2 separate regions of the Homo sapiens genome follow, and region 2 is linked to region 1. Evidence: fine-mapped expression QTL. A gene starts in region 1. The other region holds a variant in brackets. All regions are shown on one strand. Distances are from middle to middle. Region 1 holds the start of ARL6IP4 (ARF like GTPase 6 interacting protein 4). Region 2 overlaps ABCB9 (ATP binding cassette subfamily B member 9).

Evidence for each region. PIP is the estimated chance that this variant, and not a neighbour inherited with it, causes the effect.
Region 2: its variant is fine-mapped to the expression of ARL6IP4 in whole blood (TOPMed, PIP 0.99).

Annotation. Positions count from the first base shown.
Region 1 is chr12:122,977,348-122,982,603 of GRCh38, reverse strand. ARL6IP4 (ARF like GTPase 6 interacting protein 4) reads right to left here and starts at 1,923. Exons shown (of 6, transcript NM_018694.4): 1 at 1,859-1,923; 2 at 1,305-1,475; 3 at 725-1,033; 4 at 530-647; 5 at 66-135. The coding sequence starts at 1,464. OGFOD2 (2-oxoglutarate and iron dependent oxygenase domain containing 2) reads right to left here. Exons shown (of 7, transcript NM_001304833.2): 5 at 4,035-4,162; 6 at 3,594-3,851; 7 at 2,562-3,521. The coding sequence ends at 3,258. RefSeq lists silencers at 1,507-1,606, 1,617-2,256 and enhancers at 1,339-1,844, 1,845-2,350, 2,507-2,726.
Region 2 is chr12:122,957,237-122,962,709 of GRCh38, reverse strand. ABCB9 (ATP binding cassette subfamily B member 9) reads left to right here. Exons shown (of 12, transcript NM_019625.4): 2 at 2,388-3,075. The coding sequence starts at 2,475. Among named protein-coding and RNA genes, the nearest start is that of ABCB9, 6.5 kb to the left of the region's middle. The variant GAGAAAACTA/A (reference allele first, on the strand shown) is at 2,283.

The DNA.
Region 1 (5,256 bases):
ACAGGAGGAGGGGTACATCACAAACAGAGCTGGGGGCGGATGGCAGGCAGAGGGGCCACACCCACCTTGTTGATCTCTCTGTGTCGTTCTTTGGTTACGATTTCCTCTAGGACCTCGCCATCTCCCTTAATAAGCCTGGGGGTGGGAGGGTCTCCGTTCAGCAAGGAATAGGCAGGTCCCCTAATGCCAGAGGAGCAGAACCACAAGCAGCCGGCAGAGGGGTCCCAGGGCTCCCACCCCGCAGCCTTGAGTGGACAGACCCTGGGGCCTCACCCACTCTCCCTGATGAAGGCAGTGGAGCTGGGCTCTGCCTTGCCAGCCTCAGCCCGGCCAACAACAGCCCTTTCAAGAGCCTCCTCCAGGCCCTTCCAGCCCCTGCAACTACTTACTCCAAGTGACCGTATTTTTGCCCACATTTGGCCTTTTTCAGGCACCAGGAACCCCGCCCGGCCCCACTCCTCCCGAGAGCACACATCTTCAGCCAACACTCCCAGATCCTGTGGTGTAAGTCAGGCCGAAAGCTCCCCACCTGGTGCGCCCCGTCTCAGGGTCCACCACCTTGCGGATGATGCTCTGCCGGGCATCCCACTCCTCCTTGGTCATGGGCTTCATGGCCTGGATTCGGGACTTCTGCTCATCCGTCAGGACTGGAAGGGAAGACGGAGGTGGTGGCCAGGCCTTGGGAAGCGACCTTCTCCCTCTCAGGTGCTGGGCAGCACAGTACCTGGGCCATCCTCTTCCTCCCCAGCTGATCGGTGCCACTGGTCCAGCGAGGGGCCCGGCAGAGCCTCCACCTGCTGTGCTTCCGCCTTCTCCTTGCCCTTCTTCTTCAGCTTCTTCCTCTTCTTCTTCTTCTTCCTCCTCTTGTCCTTGTACTTCCCCCGCTTCTTCCGGCCATCACTGGAGGAAGAGGAGGAGGACGAGGAGGAAGAAGAGGAGCTAGAAGAACTGGAAGAAGAGGAGGAGGAGCTGGATCTTGTTCTCCTCCGGGCCTTCTGCTTGCTTCTCTCTGTGATGCAGGGAGAAGGTGAGGCTGGAAGGCCAGGAGGGGAAGAGGTAAACCTTCGTCCCCTGCTCTGGCCTGGGGCAGGCACAGACCGGCTACAGGGTGAGCGCTTCCTGAGGGGCTTTCCAGAACAGAGATGGAGCTTCCCAGAGGAGCCCCTTCCTGGCTCCTGCGGCGCCTGGCCCTCACATCTCAGGCCCGGCTGCACAGAGGCATGACTGAGCGTCCCCGACCACTGCTCGCCCGACTTCCCCGGGTAGTAACTGCGCCTCCTCTCCCCGATGCCTGTGGTCCTCACCCTCCGCCCCAGGGGCCGTGCTGGCCTTGCGACCTTGGGATGTGGAGGCCGAGCAGTTCCTCGAGGTGTCTTTCCTGCTCTTCTTCTTTCTCTTTTCCGACCCCCGTCCCCGGGACCGGCTGCGACTCCTCGAGCGCTTGCGGGAGCCGACGTGAGCCATGGCGCCGCGGGCTGGCGACGAAGAAGACGCGCTTGAGCCGAAGCCCCCAAGGCCGGCCGCGGGCGGGCTCCAAGGGTGGCTCTAGCGGGGCCGGGGCCTGGCGACGCCCAGTACCCGTCACCGTCCCGGGAAAATGAGCGACCCTCACCCACCCCCAGCGCTGGGGACCCCGGTTTTCTCCGCCGACTCCAGTCCCCGCAGCGGTGCCTGTTAAGGGCCCGCCCCGTGCCCGGAGGCCCCACGCCTGCGCACCCGGCTCCAAACCCCTGGGAACTGGCCGCCGTCCGCCGCGAGTGGCGTCTGGGGCGCTTTCCCGCGCTCTCCTACCCTCCAGCCCCGCGCCCTTCGCGGCCTCGCCGCCTCAAGGGGGCCCCCGGGGCTGCTCCGTTCCCACCTCGACCGCCCTGCGGGCCGGACAGCCCGCCCCGCGCCTTCTCGAGAGGAAGCGGCGGCGAGGAGGCTTCCGGCCGGGGCGCTGCGCGGGAGGCTGGCCGGCTGGGAAGCGCGGCGCCGCTGCCTTTCGTTCTGACGCCCCAGGTTCCGTCCCGGGCGCGCCCACCTCCCGCAGAGGCAAGCAGGGGCGCCGGCCCTCGAGCTCCGCAGCCCCTCACGCCTGTGTCTGCCGAAGCTGCGCCCACTTCCAAGGCTGCCCTCTCGGCGCACGCCCGCAGCACCCACGCCCCCGGTGCCCTGGGAAGAAGGCGACCCTCGCGCGCGCCGCCCTCCTCCCCGGCTGGTCCTGCCCTCTCCATACGACTGCGAGCTCCAGACTGAGGCGCCCTGGTCTTTCCGACGCGCCCACCCAGTGACTCAGAGGTCGCAAACTCGTGTCCGTAGGGGCCAGAAAGATCTTGGCAGTGAGCGCGGGCATGGACCCCAGGCCCATCCGGAAGGAAGCCAGGATTCTGCTCCAGCTGATACGTGCAACGTGGCATGGGGCTGGTGCCCCACCTTCCCAGGGAGACCAAACTCAAGACTGCAATATGGAAGCCCCCTGAGTTTCAAATGTGTAACCCAAAGCGTGGCTGTGCGCTTCATCCAATCTCGGGCCCCCAAGTTGCAACTCTTCCACAATGACAGCCGCAAACACAAAGGGATCTTGCAAAGCACTTTATATACGTCAGCGCATTTGACTCCCAAAACAGCTCTAGGAGGTAGGTGCTAAATGAGGAAACGAAGGCACCAAAAGGTGAAGGCTCACCTAAAGCCACACAGCTGGAAGTGGCAGAAGCAGAATGGGAACCCGGGCAGCCTGGTTCCTGGCCCTGCCATTCACCCCTCTGCCATCTAGAAGATGCTACTGGTGGCCCACCCGAGTCCACTGGGGGGTGATGCCTGCTGCTGAGGGTTCACATCTGTGCTCTCTGGAGGCTTCCCTTGGCTACTGGAAGGCACCCTGCCCTGGAGATAAGTGTCTGGGAAGTTATTCACTCCTCTCTGGCCCCCTCATCCAGGAGCCAGTAACCGGTGGTGTGGGCACACTGTGGTACTGTGGGCTCTGCCTGGAGCTCTCCGTGGGGCCAGCTGAGGCTGGACGTCCTCTGAAGCCACTTCCTTGCCCAGCTGCTCCCTCCCCTCCCCTGCTTCCCTGACTCCCTCGCTGAAGCCCCATTCCAGACCCTGCTTCTGACAAACCTGAACTAAGGCAGCATCTTTGCCCATAGAATGACCCAGAAGCTGGCACACCGTTGAGCCAAGAAGTGCAGTAGGCTGCGGGGATTTTATTTCTGCCCCCAGACCAAGGCAACGGAGCCCTCACCTGCCTGCCACCCCCACACTGGGCCCAAGCAAGCTCAGGTGAGCGCACATACATCCACCGTGGCGGGCTCCTCTCGGGTGAAGCCATCACCGAAGCCCTCATCGTCCACCAGGTCGGGCTCACGGCAGCACATGGGACAGAGGCTGTTGCGCACAGCAGAGGCTCGGAGCCAGACGACAAGGTTCCAACGCTCACCAGTGCCCAAGGGCCGGGCTCCATGCAGCTGGCCGCCACGGTGGAGGACACCCTGGCCCACCACGTGCTCCACCTCCAGGGGCTCCGTCAGGGCTGTGGGTGCCTGCAGATGGCACGACTCAGGCCTGGGCACTCACAGCTGCCCCAGGCCCTGCCGCATGGGTCACACACTCACCTGGAAGAGGCCCCCAAAATACAGGGCGCCCCCTGTGAAGACCTTGCCCAAGGCCACATTGAGGGTGAGCTCGGCATTATCATAGTGGCAGCCCAGCTCCAGGTCCTGGCCCGGTGCGTATTTGACCACAAAGGCCCGGTGGCTGTCGAGCCGGCCCCCGCCACAGTCAGGGTACAGCAGGGCCATCAGCGGCTGCAGGAAGCGCTCCCGCAGTGGTGTCATCAGCGGCTCGTCCAGCCCGAGCTCGTGCAGCAGCACCTGGGAGGGGATTCCTGGGGTCAGCAAGGAAACTAGAGGGCTGCAACCCTGGGCTTCCACTCCACGGTGATCCCACTGTGACCTTCTTTCGCAGCCCGGGCAGGCAGCCCATCTGCAGAACCTCTGACACTGCCTCCTGACCCCAGCCACCCCCTCCTCTGCCACCGGCCAGGCCTCACCCACCCCGTAGTTGTTCATGGTGTTGGGCCTCCCCTTAGGCATGTCCGATTGCTCGAAGTGCTCCAGCTCTTCCAGCAGGGCCTGGCAGAAGGGCGCTGTGAAAACAGGCACCCGGTAGATGCGCTTCTCCTCTGTGGAAGGAGGGATGGTCTGTTGGCCTGAATGTGGCCGTGGGCCGGCCAGGCCTGGGCTTCAGTCTTCCTGTTTCATCACCTGTGCCATGGAGATGAGGCCTTTGCTTTTCAGGGCTATTGTGATGACTTAAGGAAGTAACATGAGGAGCAGGGGAGGCCGATTCCCATGCCCCCCACTTATGCCCGGAACCTTTCCCCAGACTCTACAAGTGTCCACAGGGCTGGCCCTGGGAGCTCACATATGGGTCCTGAGGCCCAGAGAGGGGAAGGAAGTAGCCCAGGGACACCCAGCAGGCCAGTGACAGCCAAGTCGGGATCACAGAGCCAACTTCAGGCTCTCTCTGCACCTCCTTTCATCTGATGAGCCACCGAAGTCTGTACCCCAACTCAGAAGTGGCTCTGGGAGCCTCTGTCCCCCAGCAGGAAGGCCAGAAGGGGCTGTTCTTTCTTGCTGGGCCCTGAGGGGGAAGAAACCAGGCTGAGAATGGAAACCTAAACATTTCTTGGCGGACGCACCAATGCCCAGGGGTGCAGGGCTAGTGTGCCCACGATGGGGCCACCTCGCAGCCTAGGCCCTGCCCCAGCCAACAGCCTCAGCACTATCTCAGCTGCCGGGGAGTGGAAGGCAATGAGGAGAGCACCCCCAGGCTGGGAGGAGGGGGATTCATTCCACCCATGACTCCCAACAAAGCACAGGCTCCATGAGGGGAAACTTGTATCTGCCTCCCACAGGAGCCCCTAGCCCAGGCTATCAGTGCCAATAAGAATAGGAAACACTTTCCAAACACTACGTGCGGGCCCTGTGACAGGCACTCTATGCAGATTAACTCACTTGATCGTCGCAGTGCCTTAAGAGAGGGGGTTACTGTTGCTCCCATTTTACAGATGAGGAAACTGAATCAGAGGTTAAACAACACGCAAACCTCCCTTGCCCAGCATTTCCTGCTGGGTTTAGCCAATAAGTGAGCCCAGCAAGAAATCCGAAGAGAAGTGGGGCATTTTTTGCCCTACTTGGAGTTTGGCATGGCCGCAGGCCTCCGCCCAGAGCCACAACTCCAGGTGGTAACTGCTCCCTCCTGTTGCCAGCCCTG
Region 2 (5,473 bases), 20 kb after region 1:
TAGACAACTGCTTTGTGCCAGGCATGCAGTAGACAGGTGGAGAGGCAGATGCTGGGGTCCTACACTCACTGACTGCCTCAAGTCATCCTGGCTTGGGCCCTTGTTGGCTGAATGTCTGGATCAGGTGGTTTTGTCTCTCTGTGCCTCAGTTTCCCTAACTGTAAACGGGAATATGGAAACCCTGGCCTCGTGGGACTGTGTGAGGTTCCAGTCATGCCACAGTGTGAGCGGTTTGGGCACCTGGGCGCCAGAGCTTCGGGGAGAGGATCTCTCTCAGGATGGCCCCTTCCCAGCCACGACAGTCATCCCCGCTGTCACCCAGCGCCTCACCCCTCCTCTTGGGGGATCTAGAGCCCAGCCCATTTTGCAGATATGACAACAAAAGGCCCACGGGAGGAAGGACTGGAGCTGAGACAGGAGGTAGCACCCAGGGACACACCCCAGCCCGGTCCTAACCCTACCGTGGACAAGCCCCACTCACAAACTCAGGCCTCCAGGCCCACTTCCCGGGTGTCCCTGCGGCTCTGGGGGAGTCCTGAGGGACCCAGTGCCGGGAGATGCCTTGGATAAAGCAGACATCAAGATTCAGAAAACCAAAGGGGCCTAGGGCTGGGCACGAGGGCCAACCTGGGCAGGAGGAAAAGATTCTGGAAACTTCCAAGCAGATGCCAAGGTTTCTGGATTGCTGTGTGGCCTGCAAGCCACCCCCACAGCTGTCAAGTTCCCTCTTAGACCAAAATAGTTTATTTGGGGTTGCAGAGATAGAAGGCCTGACGTGGGAGGAGAAAAGTGGACAAACATTTATTAAGCACACACTGTATATGGTTGATTACAATCAGCAGCAATTATGCACCAGGCACTCTGCCCAGAACTGACACATTGAACCTCACACTCACATTTTGCAAATGAGGAAACAGGTTCAGAGAAATGAGTAGTGGTAGTAAAGACAGCGGCTGTTTATTAAACTCTGCTTATCTCAGCTTCGTCCTCACTATGGATGCAAAATCCTCCAGATACTCCCCACCCTCTCTGATCTCATGGGGCCTTGCTGCCTTCCCAAGGGGCACTCCTGCCTTGGGGCTCTGGCACTGTTTCACCTGTGCCAAGTGCTTTTCCCCAGATAGCCACTTGGCAGACTTCCATAACTCTTTCAAGTCTTGCTCAAGTGTTACCTACCCAGCGAGGTCTTCTCTGGCCCCCTATTTAAAATTGATCTCTGGCCCCGCACAGTGGCTCACGCTTTTGATCCCAGACTTTGGGTTACTGAGGCATGTGGATCACTTGAGGTCAGGAGTTTGAGAACAGCCTGGCCAACATGGTGAAACCCCGTCTCTACTAAAAAAAATACAAAAAGTTAGCTGGTCATGGTGGTGGGGTACCTGTAGTCCCAGCTACTTGGGGGGCTGAGGCAGGAGAATCGCTTGAACCAGGGAGACGGAGGTTGCGGTGAGCCGGGATCGCACCACTGTACTCCAGCCTGGGCGACAGAGCAAGACTCTGTCTCAAATAAATAAATAAATAAAATAAAATTGATCTCTGTCTTCCCCCACCCCTATCCTATTCACCCTCACCCCATCCTATTTACCCCCCTCTTTTTTCCACCACAACCCTTATCTCTTTTTTTAATTAAAAAAAATTTTTTTTTTTAGAGATAGGATCTTGCTGTCACCAGGGCTGGAGTGTAGTGGCATGATCATAGCTCACTGTGGCCTCGAACTCCCAGGCTGAAGAAGCGATCCTCCCATCTTGGCCTCCCAAGTAGCTTGGACTACAGGAGCATGCTACCACACTCAGTTAATGTTTGTTTGTTTGTTTGTTTGTTTGCTTTTTAAAGACAGGGTCTCACCCTGTTGCCCAGGCTGCTCTCCAACTCCTGGCCTCAAGGGATCCTCCAACCTTGGCCTCACAAGACACACATTATTTCCTTATTATCTTTTTTTTTTTTTTTTGAGATGGAGTCTCGCTCTGTCACCCAGCTAAATTTTGTATTTTTAGTAGAGATGGGGGTTTCACCATGTTGGCCAGGCTGGTCTTCAACTCCTGACCTCAGGTGATCCACCTACCTCGGCCTCCCAAAGTGCTGGGATTACAGGCGTGAGCCCATTTCCTTATTATCTGTCTCCTGCATGAGTATGTCATCTCCAGGAGAGCAGGGATCTTTGTTCTTTTTGTTCATGACAAAGAACAAAGAACAGCACCTGGCCGCAGTGGGCACTCAGTAAGTATCCCTTGAATGAGTGGAATCTTAGTACCCGGGAAGTTGATATTGCCATTTTACAGAT[GAGAAAACTA/A]AGGCTCAGAGATGTCAAGTGACTTTCTCAAGGTCACACAGCCAGCGAGTGGCAAACCTGAACCCCTTGTGCTGATGTTTGCTGTTGTCCCTACAGGCCTGGCCTCGCCCTGTGGATGATGATGGCCTTGCCCCCGTGAGCTACAACCTGGCCTTCAGCACCCGCCCACCTCCAACCAGCAGGATGCGGCTGTGGAAGGCGGTGGTGGTGACTTTGGCCTTCATGAGTGTGGACATCTGCGTGACCACGGCCATCTATGTCTTCAGCCACCTGGACCGCAGCCTCCTGGAGGACATCCGCCACTTCAACATCTTTGACTCGGTGCTGGATCTCTGGGCAGCCTGCCTGTACCGCAGCTGCCTGCTGCTGGGAGCCACCATTGGTGTGGCCAAGAACAGTGCGCTGGGGCCCCGGCGGCTGCGGGCCTCGTGGCTGGTCATCACCCTCGTGTGCCTCTTCGTGGGCATCTATGCCATGGTGAAGCTGCTGCTCTTCTCAGAGGTGCGCAGGCCCATCCGGGACCCCTGGTTTTGGGCCCTGTTCGTGTGGACGTACATTTCACTCGGCGCATCCTTCCTGCTCTGGTGGCTGCTGTCCACCGTGCGGCCAGGCACCCAGGCCCTGGAGCCAGGGGCGGCCACCGAGGCTGAGGGCTTCCCTGGGAGCGGCCGGCCACCGCCCGAGCAGGCGTCTGGGGCCACGCTGCAGAAGCTGCTCTCCTACACCAAGCCCGACGTGGCCTTCCTCGTGGCCGCCTCCTTCTTCCTCATCGTGGCAGCTCTGGGTAAGTAAGGACCTCGGGGACATGTGGCCACCAGAACATCAAATTAGGTGGATATGACTGCCTTAGATTTTAAAAGATTTTACTTACGTGGTTCAGACATCAAATTGATATGAAAAGGAAAAGAGGCCAGGCATAGTGGCTCATATCTATAATCCCAGCACTTTGGGAGGCTGAGGTAGGAAGATCACTTGAGCCCAGGAGTTGAAAACCAGCCTGGGCAACATAGCGAGAACCCATTTCTATTTTATTTATTTATTTATTTATTGTATTTATTTATTTTTTCGAAACATAGTATTGCTCTGTCACCTAGGCTAGAGTGCAGTGGCACAATCTCAGGTCACTGCAACCTCTGCCTCCCAGCTTCAAGTGATTCTCCTGCCTCAGCCTCTCAAGTAGCTGGGACTACAGGCATATGCCACCACACCCAACTAATTTTTGTATTTTTAGTAGAAACAGGTTTTCGCCATGTTGGCCAGGCTGGTCTTGAACTCCTGACCTCAGGTGATCCACTGGCCTCGGCCTCCCAAAGTGCTGGGATTACAGGCGTGAGCCACGGTGCCTGCCCCATTTCTATTTTATGTAATTTAAAACGAAAAAATAGGCCAGGCGCGGTGGCTCACGCCTGTAATCCCAGCACTTTGGGAGGCCAAGGTGGGAAGATTGCCTGAGCCCAGGAGTTCAAGACCAGCCTGGGCAATATGACAAGACCCCATCTCAATTTAAAAAAGGAAAAAGTAAAAGACAAGAGAAGAAAAAGGAAACTATGAGTTCCACTCCTGTTTTTTTCTTTTTTTAGACAGGGTCTCACTCTGTTGCCCAGGCTGTAGTGCAGTGGCATGATCACAGCTTACGGCAGCTTCAACCTCCCAGGCTCAAGTAATCCCCCCACCTCAGTCTTCCAAATAGCTGGGACTACAGGGGCGTGCACCACACCCAGCTAATTAAAAAAAGAAAAATTTGTAAAGATAGGATCTCACTATGTTGTCCAGGCTGATCTCGAACTCCTGGGCTCAAGTGATCCTCCCACCTTGGCCTCTCAAAGCACTGGGATTACAGGCGCAAGCCACAATGCCTGGCTGTGTTTCACTTCTAATTCTACCCTGATCATTCTGCCCAGGGCTAACTGCAGGAAAAGGACCCAGAAACTCCCAGGTGGCCAGGAAAGCATTCTTTCTTACTCAATTCTTGTGCATGTTCCCAGCTTTTCCTTATGCAGCTACAAGCACATCAAAAGAACATGCATCACTCCCCCACCTCTCACCCACATTGTTTTATGTTTTGCTCTTTTCACTTAACAATATGTTCTGGAATTTTTCCAACCAGTACCTCATTGTTTTATTTGGCTTCATAATATTCCATTGTGCGGCTATACCATAGATTATTTAGTTGGTCTCCCATCATTTGACTCTTGGGTTATTTTGAGCCTTTTCCTCTTAACATGAATTTTTTTTTTTTTTTTTTTTTTGAGATGGAGTCTTGCTCTGTCACCCAGGCTGGAATGCAGTGGTGCGATCTTGGCTCACCGCAACCTCCATCTCCTGGGTTCAAGCGATTCTCCTGCCTCAGCCACCCAAGCAGCTGGGATTACAGGCGCCTGCCACCACGTCTGGCTAATTTTTGTATTTTTAGTAGAGACAGGGTTTCACCATGTTGGCCAGGCTAGTCTCAAACTCCTGAGTTCAAGCGATCTGCCTGCCTTGGCCTCCCAAGGTGCTGGGATTACAGGCATGAGCCACTGCGCCCGACCTGCACGTCAATAATTCTGTTCATACACATTTCATATGAATGTGGATGGATCTGTAGAATAAATTCCTGGAGCTGGGATCATCAGAGAATAGACTAGAAAACATCAGAGTGGGCAGGCATGGTGGCTCATGCCTGTAATCCCAGCGCTTTGGGAGGCCGAGGCAGGCAGATAACGAAAAAAAAAAAAAACTCTCAGCAGTTTGAGACCAAAAAAAAAAAAAAAAGATATTAATATTTTAGTTGTGTGTGCCTACGTGCAGGTGTGGCCTGGTTTGTGACATGAAATGTATTTGTGCCTGTGAGTCTGGTCCAAACAGTTTGAAGGCACCACTCAGCAACATGGGTGGGAAGGTGGCACTGCATGGTTGGAGCTCACAGGTTCTGGGGGCAACGAGGCCTGGGCACAAATCCCTGTCCTGCTCCCTACCCAGCCGAGTGGCCCTGCGTAAGTTCTCCAGCCTTTCTGAGCCTCACTTCCCTCCTCTGTGCAACAAGGATTGTTGGAGTCCTTATTTCCTGACATTTTAGATGCTGAAAAGAACGGGAGAGCTGGGTGCAGTGGCTCATGTCTAATCCCAGCACTTTGGGAGACCAAGGCTACAGGATCACTTGAGCCCAGGAGTTTGAGACCACTCTGGGCAACACAGCAGGA